3 linked regions of the Homo sapiens genome follow. The protein of the gene in region 1 interacts with the protein of each later gene in a biochemical or structural test. Each region holds a gene or a part of one and is shown on either strand. Other genes may lie near its edges. The genes, in order: RFWD3, RPA3 and ORC2.

Region 1 (8,465 bases):
ACAGATCAGGAGGTCAGGAATTCGAGACCAGCCTGACCAACGTGGTAAAACCCCGTCTCTACTGAAAATACAAAAAAATGTTAGCCATGCGTGGTGGCACACGCCTGTAATCCCAGCTACTCAGAAGGCCGAGGCAGAAGAATCTATTGAGCCTCGGAGGCGGAGGTTGCGGTGAGCCGAGATTGCGCCGTTGCACTCCAGTCTGGGCAACAGAGTGAGACGCCATCTCAAGAAAAAAAAAAATAGCCACATGTCTAGCACATAGGAAGAGATCAGTTAAGGGTAACCTAATCAAAAGTGATTTAAAACTTCCCTAATCCAAAGCTAAACCAACTTGTTTGAAGATACCATATTATTATTATTTATCATTTAATCCAGTTATGAGATTGAGAAGTTTATAAAGTGAGCCCAAGTTCTGAGGATGGATGGCCACCAGCACCACTCTGTCTTAGAATGTGTTGAGCTGCCCTGTAGGTATAAAGTTATCAAAAAGGGAGTAGGGTCTGTGACCTGGCCAAAATCTGAAGTATCTTAACAGATAATTTATGTTTCCAACTGGATATATTAAAAAGAGCAAGGAGAGCCAAACATAAAGATACCACTAAAGTAATAATTCTTTACTGAAACCTAGGCCCAAATAGAGTAGACAGTAAAATATGGCAAGGTTTTTTTTTTTTGTTGGTGGTAGTGGTTTTTTTGTTTTGTTTTGTTTTTTTAAGATGGTGTCTCACTCTGTCACCCAGGCTGGAGTGCAGTGGCACAGTCTTGGATCACTGCATCCTCCACCTCCCGAGTAGCTGGGACTATACGCGTGTGCCACCACACCTGACTAACTTTTGTATTTTTAGTAGAGATGGGGTTTCACCATATTGGCCAGGCTGGTCTCAAACCGGTGACCTCAAGTGATTCTCCCACCTCGGCTTCCCGAAGTGCTGGGATTACAGGCGTGAGCCACCATGCCCAGCCAAACACAGCAAGTTTTAAAATAGCAAGGAAAGAATATTTGTATGTAATGTTCATTTTTATTTTTGTTTACTTTGATTACCTTTATTGTGACAGGGAAAATAAAACAGGCAAAGTAGACACTTTGGCAACTTTGGCACGAACGACTTCATAGCAGAAATGAGTTGATAGGAACACAGTCGGAAGGATGATATTTCTGAGAGAATTCTTGGCGCATAGTCCTGGTCATATGCTTGCAGAAGGAAATTTAGAAAACCTAAAACAGTCCTGTTTCTGAATTAAAATGTAGCTGCTTTTAGCTGTATTTTAATTGTGGGGTCTGTCAACTACAACTTGGGATCTTTATTTTGTTATGTATATAAGCTTTGTTTCTTTTCTGACTTTTCTTATGTGGCTAAACCCATTTCCAGAAGCTTCACATCAGTCAAGCTTCATAGTAATTGTGATCTTGTATCCCTTAAATTTCCTAGTTCTTTTTTTCCTTTTCTTTTAGAGCATCTGGTATCTCACCTGAAATTAGTTGCAGAATATTATATGTATGTCCTTTTGTTTCTACAGAGAGGGTTGATAATTTTTATCAGATATCAGAGGATAGTGACTAAAGGCGTTTAACCTCCTCTGCAGAGGTGGGAATGTGCTTGAGGTCTGGTAGTGGGGTCTGGAGCCGTCCGAGTTTTGGAGTGTGAGATACAGTTTCCTTACTTTCCTTTCAGATGCCCACTGGTCTCCCTGTCATACATGCCCAGAGCTGCCTCAGCTGCATTTCCATATGGTGGGGTGCTGGCTGGAACCTTGGAGGATGCTTCATTCTGGGAACAGAAAATGGACTTTTCTCATTGGCCTCATGTGCTGCCCTTGGAGCCAGGGGGCTGCATAGACTTTCAGACAGAGAACAGCTCCCGGCACTGTCTTGTGACCTACAGGCCTGGTAAGTAGTGCTGGGGTCTCCCATAGCTTATTTGGGAGCACAGTGGTAGAGAAAAGGGAAGGAGGGTTTGATCCTACCCTTTGGGTGGCTGTGGTACCGCTCACAGGCTAACGAGGTGTGTTGTAGCTCTTGCTACTACAGGGAGTATGGTGGCTCCAAGCTCCCCCACAGAGCCTGCCTCCCTGCTCCTTACGTGTGAGGACTGGAGCATATTCTGCCAGGTACTCCTGGAAGTGAATTAGCCACTTAGGAGCCCCTACAGTTTAGAACAGTAGTGGAACAAGGGGGCCAGCTCTAGGTCATTGAGCCACCTTGAGATCACTTTCGTATCTTCTGCCTGCCTCTTACTTCCCCTGAGAGAAAGGCCCAGATTAGGGCAGCCATGTAGTAGCCCGGCTGGCATACTGAAATGGACAACAGTGGCTGTGTGTGCCCAGCCAGCTGAACATCTCTGCCTCTGGAATCAGAGGTGGAACGCATAACAGCAGACTGTGCTTCATTCACAGGTTCTTTCTAGGCTAAGCGGCATGAATCTAAATTCCTGGTAAACTGTACTGATGGTCAGTGTTCTAGGTTTTTTCTTTCTAATTTGGTCTTGAGGTCTCTGTCAGGAGAGTGGCTATAAACTCTAGCCCTGTCCTGCCAAACACTAGGGAGTTCGTTGTGGGTGTTCATAGTTTGCCTTTCACAGGATACTCCTCTGTCCTGGCAGATGGCCTAATGCCTGCCTGACCCATGACCAGATGTCCCTCTCACAGGAAACTTGTTTGTACTGGCAGGTACCCTTGTGGCTCTTGTCTGAACTGTGTCTAGTTCATTTCCCTTGAGATAGTGACTCTCTAGAAGAGCCCTGACTAGGAAACAAGTTAGGTTCAGGTGTGTTGGTCAGGTGAGACACAAAGGAGGCAGTGCACAAAACACAGGAAATAACGGAATCAGCTTACTTGACAGATCCCACAGAGAAGAGGGCAGCATGCTTCAGGGGCCAATGGGAAGAAGGGGGAGCCATCCAGGACAGGCCTGCTCCCTTAGGGGTGGGGTAGGGGTGGAGGGGAGGGACAAGTGGGCTATATTTCAAACCTCTGCTCAGGGAAGGGATGTTTTAACTAGGCCAAAGTTGACAGGGTACATCTGGGTTTCAAATAATTTATGCTAGCCCTAAAAACAGATGCTGAGGTAACAACTGTATTAAACACATTTGTAACAGTCAGGCAGATGTATAGTCAGAGTTAGTCATTAAATGCTCACACTTCTGCTAGTTGTGGGTGGGTCTACTCATGTTTTTAAGTTTTGTTTGAGCTGAGAAACATCCCAGTACCACTTCAGACCCTTTGGCTCTTCATCATCCCACAGCTCGGCTGTCTCCAAGACTGTGATTTGTTGTGACTGGTGTACAAAGCCTGGGGGTCCTATTTTGTTATCTTGCTTTTGTTTGCCTCCCAGCAGAATTTCAGATACATGTTTCCCTTTCTGTAATAGCATGCTTTCACTTTATAAAAATGTGCAGTCCCAGGGGCTAATGAGGTTCTCACTGGGGGAAGGGAAAAACCTTTTACTGAGAATTCTTGAGAGAGAAATCCCCTAGCAGAGGTCTGGCAGGAGACTGATTTTACTAAAACAGACAACTCACAGAATTGTTTTTCTCTTAAGCAAAAAGCTATTGTAGATAACTTGATTCCTAGCCTATGGTTCTAAATTTCACTGATGCTAGCCTACGGTTCTAAATTTCATTGATGCTGTGATATTGTTCTTTCATTTGTTTTGTAACTGTTCTTGATGGTTTAATGCATTTATGGCTTTTCCATCCAACTAGGTTGTAAGCGTGTGAGGTTTGGGTACTTGGTTAATTTTTTGTGTAGCGTCCCCATGGTGCAGCACTGATTTCTCTGTCCCATAGATAAAAATCACACCACCATACGAAGTGTGCTGATGGAAATGTCCTACCGACTGGATGACACTGGAAATCCAATCTGCTCCTGCCAGCCTGTACATACATTTTTTGGAGGACCTACTTGCAAACTATTGACCAAAAATGCCATTTTCCAAAGCCCAGAGAATGATGGCAACATCCTGGTGTGTACTGGGGATGAAGCAGCAAATTCTGCCCTGGTGAGCCTGTTACTTTTTTACTTTCATATAAAAAGTAGTTTTGCTTAAAATATTGGTAAGGGAAAACATGAACTTTTTTTACAGAAGCTCATATAGCAAAAAAGTGTAAGTTCTGCTCTGTAATCCCACATATCCGCATATGTGTGTATGTGAGATTGCTTGGTTTCCATGAGTCGTGCTTTCCGTATTGCTTTGTAGATCTTGACTGAACTGCTGCAACCTCTATTTCTTGGGTTCAAGTGATTCTCCTGCCTCAGCCTCCTGAGTAGCTGGGATTACAGGCACCCCACCACCATGCCCGACTGATTTTTGTATTTTTAGTAGAGACAGGGTTTCACCGTGTTGGCCAGGCTGGTCTGGAACTCCTGACCTCAAGTGATCTGCCGGCCTTGGCCTCCCAAAGTGCTGGGATTAGAGGCGTGAGCCATTGCACCCAGCTGAGATGTTCTTGAACCTGAGTCTGATTAAGGCCTAGAGTAGCACTGTCCAGTACAGTCACACTAGTCACATGAGCACTTAAAGTGTGCTTAGTGCCAAGGAAGAACTTAATGTTTAATTTTAATCAAGTTAAATATAAACTTGTGTGACTAGAGGCCACCATATTGTATAGTGCCACTCTAGAAGCTAGCGCTAACTTTCATTGACTGGAGTTGCAGGGAATAGAGGAGAACAAGTTTAATGATAGCACAGAAAGCATATACACAAGTCCGGGTTGTGGGCGTTCTATAAGACAGCTGATCTGGCTTCCACAACAAGTCAATGGCAGAAGAAAAAAGGTTGGATTATAGGCGTGAGCCATTGCGCCTGGTCTGTCCTTTTTTTTTTTTTCTTGAGACGGTCTCGCTCTGTTACCCAGGCTGGAGTGCAGAGGCGCAATCTCGGCTCACTGCCACCTCCACCTCCCAGGTTCAAGCAATTCTTGTGCCTCAGCTTCCCAAGTAGCTGGGTGCACACCAACCATACCCGGCTAATTTGTGTATTTTTAGTAGAGACAGGGTTTTGCCATGTTTCCCAGGCTGGTCTCAAACTCCTGGGCTCAAGCAGTCTTCTCACCTCAGCCTCACAGACTACTAAGATTACAAGCATGAGCCACCGTGCTCTCTACCTTTTTTTTTCTGTCCCTCTCTACTTTTTTTTTTTTTTGAGACAGGGTCTTGCTCTGTTGCCCAGGCTGGAGTGCAGAGGTGCAATCTTGGCTTACTACAACCTCCACCTCCTGGGTTCAAGTGATTCTTGTGCTTCAGCCTCCCAAGTAGCTGGAACTATGGGTGTGTGCCACCATGCCCGGCTAGCTCTACTTTTTAATACTTCAAAATATTTTTCATTTCTTTTTGTTTGTTTGTTTGTTTGTTTTTAAGTGACAGTATCTTACTCGGTCCAGGCTGGAGTGCAGTAGTGCAATCATGGTTCACTGTAGCCTCAAACTCCTCAGCTTAAGCAATCCTCCTTCAGCCTCTTGAGTAGCTGGGACTGCGGGCATGCACCACTACACCTGGCTAATTTTTTCTTGTAGAGATTGGATTCTTGCTGTATTGCCCCAGCTGGTCTCAATCTCCTATCCTCAAGCTGTCCTCCCATCTCAGACTCCCAAAGTGTTGGAATTACAGGTGTGAGACACCATGCCTGGCCAATAATAAATTTTTAGAGGCCAGACGCGGTGGCTCACGCCTGTAATCCCAGCACTTTGGGAGGCCAAGGTGGGTGGATCACCTGAGGTCAGGAGTTCTAGACCAGCCTGGCCAACATGGTGAAACCCATCTCTACCAAAAATACAAGAAAATTAGCCGGGCGTGGTGGTGGATGTCTGTAATCCCAGCTACTTGGGAGGCTGAGGCATGAGAATCGCTGGAACCCAGGAGGCAGATGTTGCAGTAAGCCAAGATCGTGCCACTGCACTGCAGCCTGGGTGACAAGAGTGAGACTCCGTCTCAAAGAAAAAAAAGGGTGAGTTCCATGAGGGCAAAGACAGGGACTTTATCTTATTGACCCTTCTGTCCCTAGAAGAGGCTGGCACATTGAATGAATGGAAGCTGGGCTTTATTTCAGGTCCACTTACAGGTAGACTAATTGCTGATTACAGTAGGTGAGGCTGTACCTGAACTATGTCAGGTGTGCTGACTTTGAACAACCTTGCAAAGGTTAGGGACAGCCTGCTTTGCTCTCCAGGTAGTGTTCTCTCTGCAGCCTTTCAGACTTGTTAGATGATGAAGAATGGAAGTCCCTTCGTGTACTGACTGACTCCTGACCCTTCCCTCTGCTTGTGTTCTTTAGCTGTGGGATGCTGCCAGTGGCTCGTTGCTCCAGGACCTACAGACCGATCAGCCTGTGTTGGACATCTGCCCATTTGAGGTGAACCGTAACAGCTACTTGGCTACCTTAACAGAGAAGATGGTCCACATCTATAAGTGGGAGTGACTGTGGTCTCGAAACCTTGAAGGCATGCTGCTGGTTAGATGTTGTTTGCTAGCGCCTAGCAGCCCCAAGCAAGATCCCTGTTTATTGTCTGCAGTCTAGAACATTGGGAATCATGGTTTGTTTGCATTAGTATGATTCTAGGACCCTAGGTCACTGAGACACTACAGATTGTGTATCTGTTATGTCCACTAAAAGAGTAATTGATGGGTACTTTATCTACATTATCCATTTCTTGGGTTTAAAGCCTTCATTAACCATTATTGTATGTTGGAAATTCTTATTTTCTTTATTTTCTGTGTGACTTTCTGGACCTTAGAGAGTGTCCTCTCATCATCTAGGATGTGAGTGGGCATCAAGCATTTTCTGGGGAATATGACATCCCATCTGAGTTGTCCTGTCACTTAAGTATCCTTGAAGGGACTAACCATCGTCTTGGTACTGATTTGATGCAACGTAGATGTAAAAGAGTATTATTCAGTTGAACACAAGAGGGCACTGTAGAACCTTGTGTCCGGTTTATTTCTGACCTTGAAGGCTGACAATCTTTTAGTAACTTGTCTCATCTCCACACAAGTGTGTGATAGCACACCTGGGTGTGCTTTGTGGCAATAACACTTGTGTTCCAGGTGTGAAGTGCTGGGACATTGGCAGGCCCAGTGATGGAAGCAGCTAGTGAACGATTCCCTTTGCTAATGCCTAGTGCATTAAGTTCATTGCTTTGCGAAAGGTAAGGAAAGAGGCCAGTTGTTTGAGCGGTGGGGAAGATTTTGTTTTTTCTAGCCAGCTTAGGATCTCAGGATTGGTTTTATCCAAGCTAGTGCTTTGAAGAACACTATCTCTTGCCAGGAAAAGATGAGTGATAGGTCAAAGCTTTTACTTGAGTCTCCCCTAGTGTCAGAGATCAGGAGAAAAGACATAAGAGAATTTACAAAAGCTATTCAGACTGCTATTGAAAACATGAGAAGAACTTGTCTCCCATTTTGAGAGTTCCTATCTAAATAAAGCCAATTCCTCAGACTGAGGGGCTGTTCTTAAGTGTTCTTTATACATTCCAGTTATCCAGTTAAAGCCTTCCCCATGTGAAGCTGATGTTTGATTCCAGTTTCCTTTGATTTGCCTCCCTAACCTTTTCTAGGGCTCAGTTTGTATTTCTTTGCCTTGCCTCAGACTACTTTGCCAACCCACTTCCACAACAGAATATGCTTCAAGATGTGGGCAGGTCAGTGTCCTGTTCATGGGAGAAAATGGCTTAACAGTCTGATTTTCTCAAATGATTATTGAAGAGTTGTTATCGTTTTTATTATAAAACACTTCTGACCTGTCAATTCAAGAGCTGTTTCTAGGATCTTTCTCTCCGGCAAGGGGTTGTTGCACTAGATTTCCCCAGAGTTCCAAGTTCTAGTTGTGCCTTTTAATGACCCTTTAATATTTTAGGACATAATTTTTTCCTTTTTTAAATTTTTTTGTAGAAATAGATGTTTCACTACGTTGTCCAGGCTGGTCTTGGACTCCTGGCCTCAAGCAATCCTCCCACCTCAGCCTCCTAAAGTGCCAAAATTATAGGCGTGAGCCACTGCACCCGGCCCCTATTTGAAGACGTCTTTTGTAAAAGCTAGCTTCTAGAACCTGAGAAAAGCTCTTTTCTCAGAGGAGATACTCCTTTTGATATGTTAATGATTAAGAGTGGTTGCCCAGGCCTAGTTTCAGTGGCAGAATAGGATTGGAATTAAAAAGCAGAACTCATCTGGCTTCAGCAGATTGCCACCAAGAGGATACAGGTGGTCAGGTCCTGGCTGGCTTTGTCTTTGGGCCTGGGCAGGCTTAGGATTTGACTTTCTTTGAAGTACCTGATGCTGATTGATTCCACTAATAGTAGGAAGCAAGAGACTTAACTATGAGGGACGTTATGTGAATCTTAAGTCTTACCAGTCCTTGCATTAGTACATTAAATTTGGATGTTTTGGAAGCAAATTCATACGATCGTGAGTGATTTCTCCAAAGAAAAAAAGCCTTGTCCAGCCTGACCAACATGGTGAAACCCCATCTCTAC
Region 2 (5,414 bases), on another chromosome or scaffold:
ATATGTACTGTCTAAATCATGAGTGCCAGCAGATTTCACTTTTAGGGTGGGCATCCTTTAATTTGTTATCAGAATAGGGTTGCCATATTTAGCAAATACAGAACCTACTTAACACTACAAAAAAAATCCTTGTTTATCTGAAATTCAGAAATTAACTGTGTGTTCCATGAACAGATTTGATAACATAAGATTATAATTTGATCCAATAAGTTGAATAAACTGAATGAATAAACTGTTCAAGAAACAGTTGATTTGTGCTCAACTAAGGATCAATGTACTCATCTTTAGTCAAACTTTGTTGTTGTTTTAGTGAGATTTTAATTATATGTTTCGTTTTTAGATTCATCCCACCGGAAAAATGTTTATTCTTTCAGATGGAGAAGGAAAAAATGGAACCATCGAGTTGATGGAACCCGTATGTTTAAGTGTTAATAAGTCTCTTATATATTATAGTTAATTCTTCATCTTGATTTGGTTTGTTGCCGATGTTTCTAATTTTTGCAATGGATTTAAAAAGGATGAGCTGGTAAAACGTCCCTGGCTGTAAAATTTAATTCTTGTACTATTCTCTCATTATATTTCCTTTTACATTTTTAACCAATGATTTTTTGGGCGTCATGATTTTTGAACATATCCCATAAATGTTGGATAACAATTCTCATTCCTTATGAAAGACCATAAAATCACATAAGAAAAATTTACGTTGCTTTTTTCTTCCTCAAGAGGTTTTTTGTTTCGTTTTTGTTTTTTTGTTTTGAGACAGGGTCTCACTCTGTTACCCCGGGTGGAATGCAGTGGCACCATCATGGCGCACTGCAGCCTTAGCCTCCCAAGATCAAGTTGCTCCCATGTCAGCCTCCCCAGTAGCTGGGACTACAGGCATGCTTAACCATGCCTGGCTAATTTTTGTTTTGTTTTGTTTTGTTTTGTTTTGTTTTGTTTTTTGTAAAGATGGCATCTCCCTATGTTCCTCAGGCTGGTCTTGAACTCTCGGTCTCAAGCAATCCTCCTGCCTCGACCAGCCCCTCAAGAGTTTTCGATTTTATTTTATTTTCTATTTTTGTTCATATATTTCCAGTTTTTACTTATTTATGTTTGCATTTTATGTTTAACATACTTAAAACTTTTTTTGGTATTTTGTGAAGACAAATCCATATGCTGTTTGGTTAATGTATACAGAACACATTGTGAAATACAGATTATAGAAGATTCCTCTCATAGGATATTACTGCTTATAGAAATGCTGGACGTTTTCAATAGTGATTTTGTCTTTAACTTGAATTGTAGCTTTGGACTTGAAGCTACTGCTAAAGGTAGCAGGAATTTTAACATGCTGACAGTTAAGTACTCAAACATTTGTTAACAAGTTACATTTTAACTTTTACACTGGTAATTCTTAAAATTACTTTGTTACTTGAAGTGATAGATTAGTAACCTGTATAACAGTTTTCCAAAATAATTGTCAACTGAAAATGTGATATCACCAAATCGATGTCTTGTTCTGTGTCTTAGCTTGATGAAGAAATCTCTGGAATTGTGGAAGTGGTTGGAAGAGTAACCGCCAAGGCCACCATCTTGTGTACATCTTATGTCCAGTTTAAAGAAGATAGCCATCCTTTTGGTAAATAAAGCATTCTAGTATTGACTGGTTTTATGTAATTACATAACATACAGTTTTATATAACTGTATGTAATTACATAACATACAGTTTTATATAACTGTATGTAATTACATAACATACAGTTTTATATAACTGTATGTAATTACATAACATACAGTTTTATATAACTGTATGTAATTACATAACATACAGTTTTATATAACTATGTTTTAACATACATTTTGTATTACATACAAAATTGTATGTATTACATACAATTACATAACATAAACATACAGGAAAACAGTTTTATTTTTAGTTTGATATATATTGGTCTAGAGTTTTAGTACTGCCACATTTTCAATTTCTATAGAATTTTGTGATCGTAAAGGCAAATGGGGGTACATTTTGTTTTGGCCTGCTTTTAAGTAGTGCTTATATATGTAAGAAACTCAGTAAAGATTAATTAATGTTTGTTGAAAGATAATTTTTTTAAATATAACAAAAATAGTATTAGTTTTTTTGTTGTAATATCTGAATTGAAGGAATTGAATAATGCATAACACCCAAAACACTACCAGGCAGAAACTGCCTGTATAATGAACATCAAAATGGATGGTACTCCCATGTCTTTTTTTTGGTGCCACAGTTAAATACAAGAATCCATAATCCATATCTCCATTTTTAGAAACTCACTTCCAAAAGGGTGAGAAAAAGGAAATAGGTAAAAATATCTTAGATAATAATTGATGTTACAACTTTCCATTGTAGATTAAATGTTTGCTTAAATGTTTCTTTCAGATCTTGGACTTTACAATGAAGCTGTGAAAATTATCCATGACTTCCCTCAGTTTTATCCTTTAGGGATTGTGCAACATGATTGATCTTGATGGATTTTCATACGATTGTAAATGAGCTATATTAAAGTCTATTAAAGGAAGCCCTTCTTGTTTGAGGGAGAGATTTCTGTGCTTTCTCATATTTAATTTGCTGTTTTTAAGATATTCCAACCTAGAGTTTTTGATGGAACTGATATATTGACAGTTCTCACCGAAGTCCTTTTATAAAGAATTGCTACTCCAATATATGGTCAGATTAGATGCAAGAATAAAGCAGTTGTCCGAGTCTAAGTTTCTATTTTATTAATAAAAACTAAAATGGTACGTACTATCGGTCATTTCATTTTCATTCTTTTAATCATGTATTCAAGCACAAACTTGAAATTTCATAGCCATAAGGTCAAGATTTAGACCTACCAAATAAAACCTTGGGCCAGCTGTGTTAAGGATTTGCTCACCTTTTCCCAAACTATACCTTGATAATTATTTCCTTGATACCCTACTTACAAAATGAAGTAGATGACATTAAAAAGGCAAACAGAGACTGGCCACGCTGGCTTACTCCTGTAATCCCAGCACCTTGTGAGGCCGAGGCGGGTGGATCACCTAAGGTCAGGAGTTCGAGACCAGCCTCACCAATATGATGAAACCCTGTCTCTACTAAAAATACAAAAATTAGCCGGGCGTGGTGACATGCGCCTGTAATATCAGCTACTCAGGAGGCTGAGACAGGAGAATCACTTGAACCTGGGAGGCGGAGGTTGCGGTGAGCCAAGATTGCACCATTGCACTCCAGCCTAGGCAACAAGAGTGAAGCTCTGTCTCAAAAAAAGGCAAACAGAATCTTACATCTTCTGTAATCTGTGAAGTATCTCTTTTTCTGGCTTGGTTTGGTTTTGTTTTTGTAGAGACAGGATCTCACTCTATTGCCCAGGCTGGAATACGGTTGTGCAATCATAGCTCACTGCAGCCTTGAACCTCTGGGCTCAGTCTCCCAAGTAGCTCAGACTACAGGTGGGCACTACCACGCCCAGCTAGATTTTCCTAAATTTCCGTGTAGAGATGGGGTCTCACTGTGTTTCCCAGGCTGGACTCAAACACCTAGCCTCAAGCAATCCTACCGCCTTAGCCTCCCAAAGTGTTGGGATTACAGGTGTGTAACAACCATGCCCAGCCTTCCTGGGTTTTAAAATAGCATTTACTAAATTCCAAACAAGGAATATATGATCATTGAAAGAGTTGGTGGAATCATTTGACTTTCTTTTTATTCTTTTCACCTGTCTAATCTTTAGTATGGAATCTCTCTCTAGCACCATGTTGGGGGTGAGCAGGGAAGATGTGGCAGATTTGGAATAAGGTAGTATAGAATAACCGATGACCTACGTGGCCAGTTAAGTTTTATGGCTTGACCCATTCCCTTGAATAAGGAAATAATTCTAAATCCATATAGGTTATTGTAAATTATACCAAAAATACTTAGTTTTAATTAGTGTAATCTTAAATTTCAACTTCTGTCATCCAAAAATACTCTGCTCATTACTTGAGGGGCATTGCCATAGCCATTTACGGTAAAGCATTCTGTTACATGAAATGAAGACAACTGTACAGTTTATACGCTGTATAATGACTTTGGTCAATGACAGACTGCATATATGATGGTGGTCCCATAAGATCATAATGGAACTGAAAAATTCCTGTCTAAAGACAAAGGCATCGTAACATCTTAGCACAATGCATTACTCACATGTTTGTGGTGATGATGGTGTAAACAAGCCGCACAGTAGGCTGCATGTAGAAGTATGACACATAGAATTATGTATGGTACATGATACTTGATAATAAAATACCATGTTACTGGCTATGTGTTTACTATTTATCATTATTTTAAACTGTACCCCTACTTACAGGAAAAAAGGTAACTGTAAACAGCCTCAGGAGAGTCCTTCAGGAGGTCTTCCCAAAGAAGACCTTGTTATAGGAGATGACAGTTCCCTGCATGTTATGGCCCTTGAAGAACTTCCACTGGGACAAGATATGGAGGTAGAAGACAGTGATATTGATGATCCTGTATAGGCCTAGGCTAGTGTGTGTGCTTGTGTTTTAGTTTTTAACAAAAAAGTTAAAATGTAAAAAGAAAATTTAATTTTGGAAATAGAAAAAAGTTCATAAGAATACAAAGAAAAATATTTTTGTTCAGCTGTACAGCGTGTTTTAAGCTAAGTGTTATTCAAAAAGAGTGAAATGTTTTTAAAAAATTTACTGTACCTTTTTTATTTATTTACTTATTTTTTTGAGATGGAGGCTCGCTCTGTCACCTGGGCTGGAGTGCAGTGGCATGATCTCAGCTAACTGCAACCTCTGCCTCCCGGGTTCAAGGAATTCTCCTGCCTCAGCCTCCCGAGTAGCTGGGACTACAGGCGTGTGTCACTATGCCCCGCTAATTTTTGTATTTTTAGTAGAGACAGGGTTTCACCATGTTGGTTGGGCAGGATGGTCTCAATCTCTTGACCTCGTGATCTGCCTGTCTTGGCCTCCCAAAGTGCTGGGATTACAGGAATGAGCCACCGCACCTGCCCTACTGTACCTTTTTTGTGTTCTATGTGTGGTGGTGCATGCCTATAGCCCCAGCTACTTGGGAGGCTGAAGTGGCAGGATAGCTCAAGCCCAGGAGCTCGAAGCTGCAGTGAGCAACAATCATGCTGCTGTACTTCAGCCTGCGCAACACAGCAAGACCCCATCCAAAAAAGAAAAGTTAAAACAAATTTAAAAGTGCATAAATTAAAAAAGCTACAATAAGCAAGAGTTAATTTATTATTGAAGAAAGAAAAATATATTTTTATAAATTTAGTGTGGCCTAAGTATGTAAAGTCTACAGTAGGGTTCAATAATGTCCTAGGCCCTCACATTACTCACCACTCACTCACTGACACCTGGAAGCAACTTTCAGTCTGCAAGCACAAGTTATGGTAAGTGC
Region 3 (9,824 bases), on another chromosome or scaffold:
ATATTTATTAATCTTGACAAAGGAAATATTCAAGTTTTTTAAACCAATAACATAATTCTAAGAAATGCTATTTATCTTATCAATGGCTGTCAAGTCTGATAAACACAAATTTCTTAAAAACTGTAGAATTTCTGGGAAGAGTCATACAATAAAGTGACATTTCTATATCTGAGTCATAATGTCTATTTTTACATTTATTTTTATATATGACTAAATATCTGAAACTCACTGTAAAAAGAAAAATGTTAACTTACTTTAACATAAAGATTCATGTAAATATTATTCTTTATTTTACAAGGGTTTGTAATGATAATACTTACTGTAATTGCAGCATCCATTTATGAAATAATTTTTCATACTGTTGATTTAGTTGTTTAAGTTCGGCAGAAAAGGAAGGGGAAACCTTGCTCAATAAGTTACGCAAAGTTTGCTTTAAAAAAAAGGAGGAGGGGAAAAAAGTCATTCTCAAAGCACAGACAGCAAATCAATCCAAACAATTTCCTTAGAAGTAGAGCTTAGAAGAAGCCAATCCAATTGGAATATTACTTTAATCTGGTTTGGCAATGAGTATATCAACCGATAAACAAAATTCTTAAAAAATAATTTTTTTGTTTTCTTAAAATTGTTAACATTCTTTTTAGTAATAACAGTAAAGAATTTGGTAAGTTTTGTCCAGAACCACTTAAATGATTATAAACTCCAAGAATAGGCTTTACTTTCTCAGAAAACATTAAAGGTTCTTTATAATTTACTTACTATTATCATTAGTAAAATAAACCTATATCACTGCTCCTCTTCCAAAAGCTGTTTCTAACAAATCCTTTATCTTTGGTAAGTATTGCAAATTTTTAAAAACAATAATATAAATAAACTGAGGAAAGTGCATTGCCCTGTACCCCAAACTTGGAAATTCATGCTGATGAATCAGAGATCATTTTTTGAAATGAAAACTCTAGCAAAAAGCTACACATGGGTCTTCACTTTGGCACTACCATGTTTTCATGATTCCACCACCTTTCAAGTAAAATATTATTTAAATACTGAAGATTAGAGTTGCGATAAATATTCCAGGTACTCTGGCTTGTACTGTGTTTATTTAGTCACAGTTAAAGCAAACAGAACTACCTTTAAGTAAAATTGTTAAGTAGGTAGTTAAAAAAAAACAACTCTTATCTCTTCTGAGTTCAGAGCCCTGAAAAAGCAGAGAAAGCACTAATATCTTTTCCAGCAGTCATTTACACTAGATTATCTGAGCATATTCACACTTGAGTGTGAACACTAGAATGTTATCTCATGTATGTACTTTCATTTCAAACTTTTTTTTTTTTTTTTTTTTTTTGAGACAGAGTCTTGCTCTGTCACCCAGCCTGGAGTGTGGTGGCACAATCTCAGCTCACTGCAAACTCCACCTCCCAGGTTCAAGCGATTCTCCTGCCTCAGCCTCCTGAGTAGCTGGGAGTACAGGCGCGTGCCACCACGCCTGGCTAATTTTTGTAGTTTTAGTAGAGATGGGGTTTCACCATGTTGGGCAGGCCGCTCTCAAACTCCTGACCTCGTGATCCTCCCGCCTTGGCCTCCCAAAGTGCTGGTATTACAGGTGTGAGCCTCCATGCCCAGCCTCATTTCAAACTTTAATTAATATTCATGGAAAACTGCACTTTCGACCCCAATATCCAGCTGTACTAGAATGAAGCAGAACTGGCAATCTAGTTTTGAGCCTGGGCTGTAAGAGATTGTGTGTTTTCCCACTTTTCCTCTTATGCCTCTGCCACTGTCATGAGGATAACATGCCTCAGCTAGCCTGCTGGTCCAACGAGGAAAAGAAACATGGAGCAAATCCTAGATCAGCCAACTTCTGACTGACTTGCAGACATGAAAAATGCTTATTGTCACATGCTACTGAAGATTGTATTGGTTAGCTATGCTATGTTTACGCCCAATGAAAGGCTTTCGTCTCCCTCACTGACAGGTGTTTCTTTCATCCTCCTAGAGATCTTTTTGCCTCTAAGTCTGATGAAGTCCTATTGTGAGTCTAGACTCATGTGTCCTTCTCCCATATTGCTTATATTCTCTGATCCGAGTCTCAATACCAATGAGCCAGGACTTAGATTATCAATTGCAATTATTACTGACAAAGATTTTCTCACTCAGATGGTTCTGTCTCCTCTCACAGAGATGTAAAACCCCAGCAAGTATAACTGTATGGTATTTTTTTTTTTTTTTTTTTTGTAAAATGAGCTACTGGAACCATGGTACATAGTAATCTTGTTACCTTACCACACTGGGCAGGTTTTCCATAATATCCTCAAGCAGAATATCCTCTACTTTGTGCAAAGTTTTTAACTGAGAGAAAGTCAGGTTGCAGTTGCTGTTTTATGACCAGTGTGAGATTTAGTGAATACATATAGGTTAAATGAATAACAGAGATAAATGGTAAATGGATATCAAGGAACTATGACCCTGATGATTATCATAGATCCTGAAGAAATAATAAACGAGTAAGAGGGGAAAAATGCATAATTACAGTCTGTCTAATCCAGTAAATTATTTATTTATTTATTTAAATTTTTAGTAACAACGAGGTCTCCCTATATTGCCCAGGCTGGTCTCAAACTCCTGTGTTCACATAATCCTCCTCCCTTGGCCTCCCAAGGTGCTGAGATTACAGGTATGAGCCAGGTGTGCCCGGCCTATTTACTATTTATATAATAAAAGAAGTAATAATCACATTAACTTGTGTTTCATTTGATCAGGACAATAATTCTACTTGTGTATACTTTTCAAATCTGTTGCTTACGTAGCATATTTTTCAGGACAGAGTAAAAAAAATTTAGAAGTAACATTCCTTGTAACATACCTGATCCAGTTTAGCTCTCTTTAGCTTCTGCAGTGTTCTATCAGAGGTTAAAACTTTTGAACTGCTGTGAGCTTCAAAATATTCTTCTACTAAGTCACTCTGAAAGTGAACAGAGTAGTCAGTCCTTAGTAGCTTCAAATATCTGTCTCATATCAAAATTAGACAGTAATATTAATGTAAAATAGGACACGTGAAATTCTTTACTTGGTAGTATTTTCTTTTTAAAGCAACAGTACCAGTTAAGGACCAAGCATATTTAATTTCAGTAATAAAACTGAGTAATTACTAGGATCATATAAGTTAAAGAAATGACTAGGTGAAGTAGTAGTCTGTTCCTAAAAATGATTCCTAAGTTACAATATGTAATTTCCATTTAGACTAAAAAAAGAGAGATGGTTTTATATATCAAGATCTTTGTTTCTCCTCAAGTAAGTCTTTTTTTTTTCCTTTCTTTATTGAGGAAGGGTCTCACTCTGTCACCCAGGCTGCAGTGTAGTGGTGCAAATACAGCTCACTGTACCCCCAACCTCCTGGGCACAAGGGATCCTCCTACCTCAGCCTTCCAAGTAGCTGGGACTACAGGCATGCACCACTACACCTGACTAATTTTTTAAATTGTTTTTTTTTTTTTTTTGCAGAGACAGGGTCTTATTATGTTATCCAGGCTGGTTTCAAACTCCTGGCCTCAAGCAATCCTCCCACCTTGCCCTCCCAAAGTGTTGGGATAACAGGCATGAGCCACCATGCCTGGCTTCAAATAGTCTTAGCAAATCCTTTAATATTAGTATAGCTGAAGTACTGTGAAAATGAGGAAATCAACTGCAAGGTAACAAAAGAAAAAAAAGAAACCCACAAACAAATAAAAAAACTGGCCTACTATTCCAGTCAAGCGGAATTTTCTTCTCACACTATTTGTTCTTCTGATTTTGGGCAGGACTAAACTCTAGGGTGGTAAGGAAGGGACAGAAAGCTATTTAAGCAGTAGGCTCCTCAATTGCTCTGAACCTTTAGACAGAGCACCAGGATAATTAGCCTTTTCTAAAACCAAGGTGCCTGCAATGTTCTTCCAAATGACTCAACATGGGTCCCTAGCCACATCATTCATTACACTGACTTGAATACATTGACAATGGTACAAAAACAAGATACACTGAGAACTCATGCCTCCAATTGTCCAATCAATATTTACTTAAAAGTTCATTTTTTATTTTTGTTATTTTTTATTCTAATCCCATAGCTTATTTAAAAATTTATTTATTTATTTTTGAGACGGAGTTTCGTTCTTATTGCCCAGGCTAGTACAATGGCATGATCTCGGCTCACTACAGCCTCTGCCTCCTGGGTTCCAGCAATTCTCCTGCTTCAGCCTCCCGCGTAGCTGGGATTACAGGCACACATCACCACACCTGGCTAATTTTTGTGTTTTTAGTAGAGACAGGGTTTCACCATGTTGGCCAGGCTGGTCTCGAACTCCTGACCTCAGGTGATCCACCCGCCTTGGCCTCCCAAAGTGCTGGGATTACAGGCATGAGCCACTGTGCCCAGCCTAAAAAGTTCATTTTTATACAGTGGAATTGAGATGTCACTTTTAGCATATACTATTTAGCATATACTATGGTATTAATTCATGAATATGTAGACAGGCCAGAAAAGAAAGCCCAGAAGTAGAAACAAATATATGTGGGAATTTATGTGGAAGGCTGAGAAAATATAGAAAAGTGAAGAAAAAATATTATTTTGAGAGATGTGGATCTCTTAGGGTAGCCTATCTTTGAAATATTACACAATTTTTCTTTAAGGTTAAAGTCTCTCTCTTCACTTACTGTTTTATCTCTTTTCATTCTCTTAGAAGGTGTTTCTTTGCCAACAGGAGCTGAAACTACTCTATTCTGAGCTTGAATCTTTTGGCTGAATATGACTGCATTAGTGTCCTCTTCATGTTCCTGTGCAACCCCTTCATCATCCTCTGAGTTGGAAGCAGAATATTCGCTTTCACTGTCAGAATGAGACCTTGGAACTGTGGGGGGAAAAATAGCAATTTGGACAATTTCATGGTTTGACAAGAGAGGCATTGTGGGGTAAAGCAAAGAGTGGGGGCTCTGTAGTAAGAGTCTGAATTCTGGTTTTGTCATTACCTGCTCATGATTTCACCAGAGCTAATTAACAAATTCTCTCAGCACCAGTTTATTTATCAAATTAATAGTACATAGTTTAATAAACCATTAGGAAGATTACATTGAAATGTATATAAAGCCACTAATAATTCCTGACACACAGGAACTGTGATAGAAATTGTTAATCATACCTAACACCGTTCTCCTTCCCTCTTCCTTGCTAACAGAACTCCAATTTTGCAAAATATGGCAATATGCCCCATCCTAGGGGATGAATCATGGTAACTGCCTTTTTCCTCTTCAAGGTACCTGCTTTCCCAGCCTCTGCTCCAACTATGGTTGACTATGTGACCCCTTGACCAGTGAATTGAGGGAAAATAGCTGGCAGCTTCTGAGAAGGATTTTCCTCAATTACGGAAGAAAAGCCCCTATTTATACCCATCGTTTAAAGCTATGAAAGCCATTTTGCAATATGAAGTATCAAACCTAAAGATGAAAAATGCTGGTGGCAGAGTAAAAGATAGGAAGAATCTGGGTCCTTAATGATACTGTTAAGTCACATCAACCATGGAACTTGCATCTCCATACTTGTTTTGATGTGAGATACTTAAATGTCTATGGCTTAAACTACCATTATAGAATTTTCTGTTGCTGCCTACTGAAAACGTCATACTAACTAATATAGCACTCAATAAATGGTACTTATGATTATAATTATTACTAATACATACACATACACCATCCCAGAGTTGATTCAAGAATTGTCTTTTTAAACAAACCACAACCTCATCCCTACAACTCCCCAGAAATAATATAGCTAGTTTTACATTTATCAAATAAGAATAAAGCCAGTTTCACACTAAACAGGCATAAAACTGTTTTTAAAAGCTAACTTCCAAAATATGAGTGAAAAAACTTAAACAAATCAGCATATTTATTCTGAACAACAGATATACTGCAGAGGATTATCCCAAGTCAGCATGTAACAAATGTAGATATTAAAAAAAAAAAGAAAAAAAAAGGCTTGATTTTGTGGGCATATATAGCTCAGCAGATTCAGGTGTGCATTGACTGCTGCTCGTGGTACATGCACAGTTAGAAGTGGTGGCAGGTACCAGAAAGTATCTCTACCTTCTTTACATGTATGCTTCCTCCATGTAGGTATATATGTTTTGTGGTGATTAAGAAGGAAGAGGGAAGTTCACCTTCTCTCTAAAAAACAACCCATATTTGGGATGAGGAGAAAACATAAGACATGGGATATAGTTGACATGAAATAACAATCACAACTATACAGATCTTTTACTGCTTTAATATACCAAATCATTTAGCATTACCAATTTTATGGTGATTAAAAATACAGTTTTAACAACTCTATGAAATCCATACCTTGAAAAGAAAGGGCTATGAAGTATGAAGCCCTGATGTTAGGCTGAATTTAACAATGTTGACTAATACTATTATTGTCAAGGGTCAACATTATGAAAGGTGTTGACATCTTCCTGATATATAAAGGTCCAGTCATTTGCCTCAAAGTTCAATATTCAAAAATCTGAAACGATTTTTAATTTCCTAGAAGGCAGAAGCCATGTCTGTTTACTTGACTTTGTTTAGCATTCAGTACAACTATGAATATTTAATATTATTTCATTATAAAATTTCCAAATAAATCAATAGAATAATTTCCAAACTGTCTCAAAACAATTAAAAGGCATGTTATTTCATTGGAAAGACCTTTTAGCTGACTTCAATATACACTGACTACAATGTGAAAGACATGGTGCTAAGTGTTGCAACTAAAAGCCAAAGATTCAAAACACCAAGCAGTCTAAGTCTAGAACCTATATACTTAACTATTATTGCCTCTTGTTTAGATGCTACTTTTTATAAAAAGTCATGTAAAAACAAATACGTACCTATTAATCTTTTTCTTAGACTACGAGGTGCTGTTGACAGAAATTCACTTTTGTCATTGTTCTGTTTAGAAATAGAAAAAGCATTAAATAATAACATGGAAATTAATGACTGATCTGAGTGAAAGAGGCTAGAAAAAAAGAAAAATATTTTGCTTTCAATAGACTGCATTAGAACTAGATGAGCTTAGTTCCTAGAACTAGAAGATTATGACAAATGGGTTCAAACCATTCTCCTGCCTCAGACTCCCAAGTAGCTGTGATTATAGGCACGTGCCACCACACCCAGCTAATTTTTGTATTTTTAGCAGAGACAGGGTCTCACCATGTTGGCCAGGCTGGTCTCAAAACTCCTGACCTCAAGTGAACCGCCCACCTTAACCTCCCAAAGTACTGGGATTATGGGTGTGAGCCACAGCGCCCGGCCCAATGGAGTATTTTTTTAAAAGATAGTATTATGTAGCAATCATAAGTATGAAAGGGAACGGGCACCCCTATGTATATGGCAATGGGCCTTTTAATGTGCTAGAAATTTACTGGTGTTAAAGTATTACATTCTTTGAGGAGAGAAGGAGAGATTTACACTTTCTTACTTTCTGTATTTAAAAAATTGTAACTTTTTGTAGGAGTACAAAGTCTGTTTTTTTATAGAATACTTTAATACCATAAATTGTTAGCACATTAAAACATCCACTGTTATATACCTGTAAATTTCTAATAGTACTGATAAAAAAGTTAAAGTACCCTGTGATTTTGTCAACATGACAATATGACAAAAAAATTTAAGTTTATTGTCTTGTGATAGATTGCTGGTGTCATTAAAATCTGATTTGATTTTAAGAATAGTACTCTAGGCCGGGCACAGTGGCTCATGCCTGTGTAATCCCAGCATTTTGGGAGGCCAAGGCGGGCAGATCACCTGAGGTCGGGAGTTTGAGACCAGCCTGACCAACATGGAGAAATCCCGTCTCTACTAAAAATACAAAATTAGCCGGGCGTGCTGGTGCATGCCTGTAATCCCAGCTACTCGAGAGGTTGAGGCAGGACAACTGCTTGAACCTGGGAGGTGGAGGTTGCGGTGAGCCGAGATCACGTTATTGGACTCCAGCCTGGACAACACAATGAAACTCTTCCTCAGGGGGAAAAAAAAAAAAAAAGAATAGTACTCTAATAACTGAGCTAATCCCTTACCAATGGAATTACAGTATGTCTCAAATTTTTTGATCAAGATCCTCAAAAATTTTTACATTTTGTCATCTTGACCCAGTACACGTGTATATATAACTAAAAAAAATTATAAAACAGAAATTTAAAATTCTGTTCTACTTCATTTGTTAAAAATGCAGTTTATGTCCTATTAAACTGATTTCAAGATTGAGTATTGAGATAACTTATATATATCTACACAGCTTAAGTCTGAGAATTCACAACACCTGTGTCAAAATAACCACTGCAGAAAATTCCTGCTCAAAAAGACAAGACTAATAAATAATTTTTTCCTACTTGCTATAGAACATTTCTGCAAACTAATCTCTCTTGACAGTTTGCTCATTTGGGCAAACTGTTCTCCCTATCAGGACAACAGATTACTCCTAGGGCAAACAGCTTATCTTATCAACAGTTTAGTTATCAAGATACACTTTAAGACACGATCTTCACTGTGTCTACCAATCCTAAAATATCATGTCCCTAACTTTGCCCAATCCCAATCAGTTTACCATTTTGAAAAACCTGCTTTAAGCCACTTGAGCCCAGGATCCCCAAGCCCGATACATATTTTCTCTTGAACTTGCTTTTCTAAGACAGTACACTAAGATTCTGTCACAACGATGTTGTCTCTTATTGTGATAGGTAGCTTTGTTTCATCAACAGGTTTTTCTGGTTTTTTGGGAGAGTTGACAATATCTTCTAATGGGTTATAATCTATAACTTGAGAAAGAATAATCTAAATTCTTGATTAGATTATGGCAATGAGTTTTTTTCCTTTTATAGTGATAGAACACACAAGACATAAGAAAAAAGCATTATTAAAGACAAATGAAAGTCTGGCATGTCTAATCCCATACCTAGACTTGTCTAAATAGGACATTCCTGCACAGGCCATAACCATGGCCTTAAATGTCTATACTGACTGTGGAGACAAAAGTTACTCCATCTTGGATGCTAATCCATCACGTTAACTTCTGATTAGCCCCAGTCTCATGAATGCCTCCTGATTCCTACTTTATGTACTGCCTTCTGTGAAAGAACATGTCAACCTTGATATTATCACACAAATTACTGGCTACAATGCATATAGCATTCTTGCCCTCTTGACAATTAAAGAGGGTTGCCTTTAATTATCTTGCTGGAACATGTATACCCTTTCCTTATGGTAGGTAAGCCGTGGGTCTGGGGAGTAACACTGCAGAGAGCTACCTGTCTTGTGGCTGCCCAAGACCATGCTTCTGTCTCTAATAAAATACCCTTTACAGACAAACTAAACTTGTCTGCCTTGTCCTTTGGTTTCTTGGCTCCTTTGGCATTTGGGGGATGCTTTGCATATATGGCCCTTTCATGGAACACTCACCACTTGAAAAGGCATAATGAGAAAATTATACCACAAAAACACAAAGGAGGCCAGGCGTGGTGGCTCACACCTGAAATCCCAGTACTTTGAGAGGCCCAGGTGGATGGATCACTTGAGGTCAGGAGTTCAAGACCGGCCTGGCCAACATGGTGAAGCCTTGCCTCTACTAAAAATACAAAAATTAGCCAGGCGTGGTGGTGCACACCTGTAATCCCAGCTACTCAGGAGGCTGAGGTGTAAGAATCACTTGAACCTGGAAGGTGGAGGTTGCAGTGAGCCGAGACCACGCCACTGCACTCCAGCCTGGGCGACAGAGTAAGACTCCGTCTCAAAAACAAACAAACAAACAAAGAAAAAACCCCACAAAGGAG

What was found.
Region 2: of the proteins of RFWD3 (region 1) and RPA3, one has a biochemical effect on the other in vitro, tested with the Homo sapiens proteins (one study listed by BioGRID).
Region 3: the proteins of RFWD3 (region 1) and ORC2 form a complex in vitro, tested with the Homo sapiens proteins (one study listed by BioGRID).

Annotation. Positions count from the first base shown.
Region 1 is NC_000016.10:74,621,878-74,630,342, reverse strand, and holds part of RFWD3 (E3 ubiquitin-protein ligase RFWD3), read left to right. Parts: intron 1-1,676; coding exon 1,677-1,891; intron 1,892-3,788; coding exon 3,789-4,000; intron 4,001-6,271; coding exon 6,272-6,415; 3' UTR 6,416-8,465. UniProt on the Homo sapiens protein: E3 ubiquitin-protein ligase required for the repair of DNA interstrand cross-links (ICL) in response to DNA damage. Plays a key role in RPA-mediated DNA damage signaling and repair.
Region 2 is NC_000007.14:7,634,071-7,639,484, reverse strand, and holds the end of RPA3 (replication protein A 14 kDa subunit), read left to right. Parts: intron 1-340; coding exon 341-415; intron 416-1,512; coding exon 1,513-1,621; intron 1,622-2,402; coding exon 2,403-2,485; 3' UTR 2,486-2,967; downstream 2,968-5,414. UniProt on the Homo sapiens protein: As part of the heterotrimeric replication protein A complex (RPA/RP-A), binds and stabilizes single-stranded DNA intermediates that form during DNA replication or upon DNA stress.
Region 3 is NC_000002.12:200,931,019-200,940,842, forward strand, and holds part of ORC2 (origin recognition complex subunit 2), read right to left. Parts: intron 6,949-9,824; coding exon 6,888-6,948; intron 4,875-6,887; coding exon 4,681-4,874; intron 2,957-4,680; coding exon 2,858-2,956; intron 431-2,857; coding exon 321-430; intron 1-320. UniProt on the Homo sapiens protein: Component of the origin recognition complex (ORC) that binds origins of replication. DNA-binding is ATP-dependent. The specific DNA sequences that define origins of replication have not been identified yet.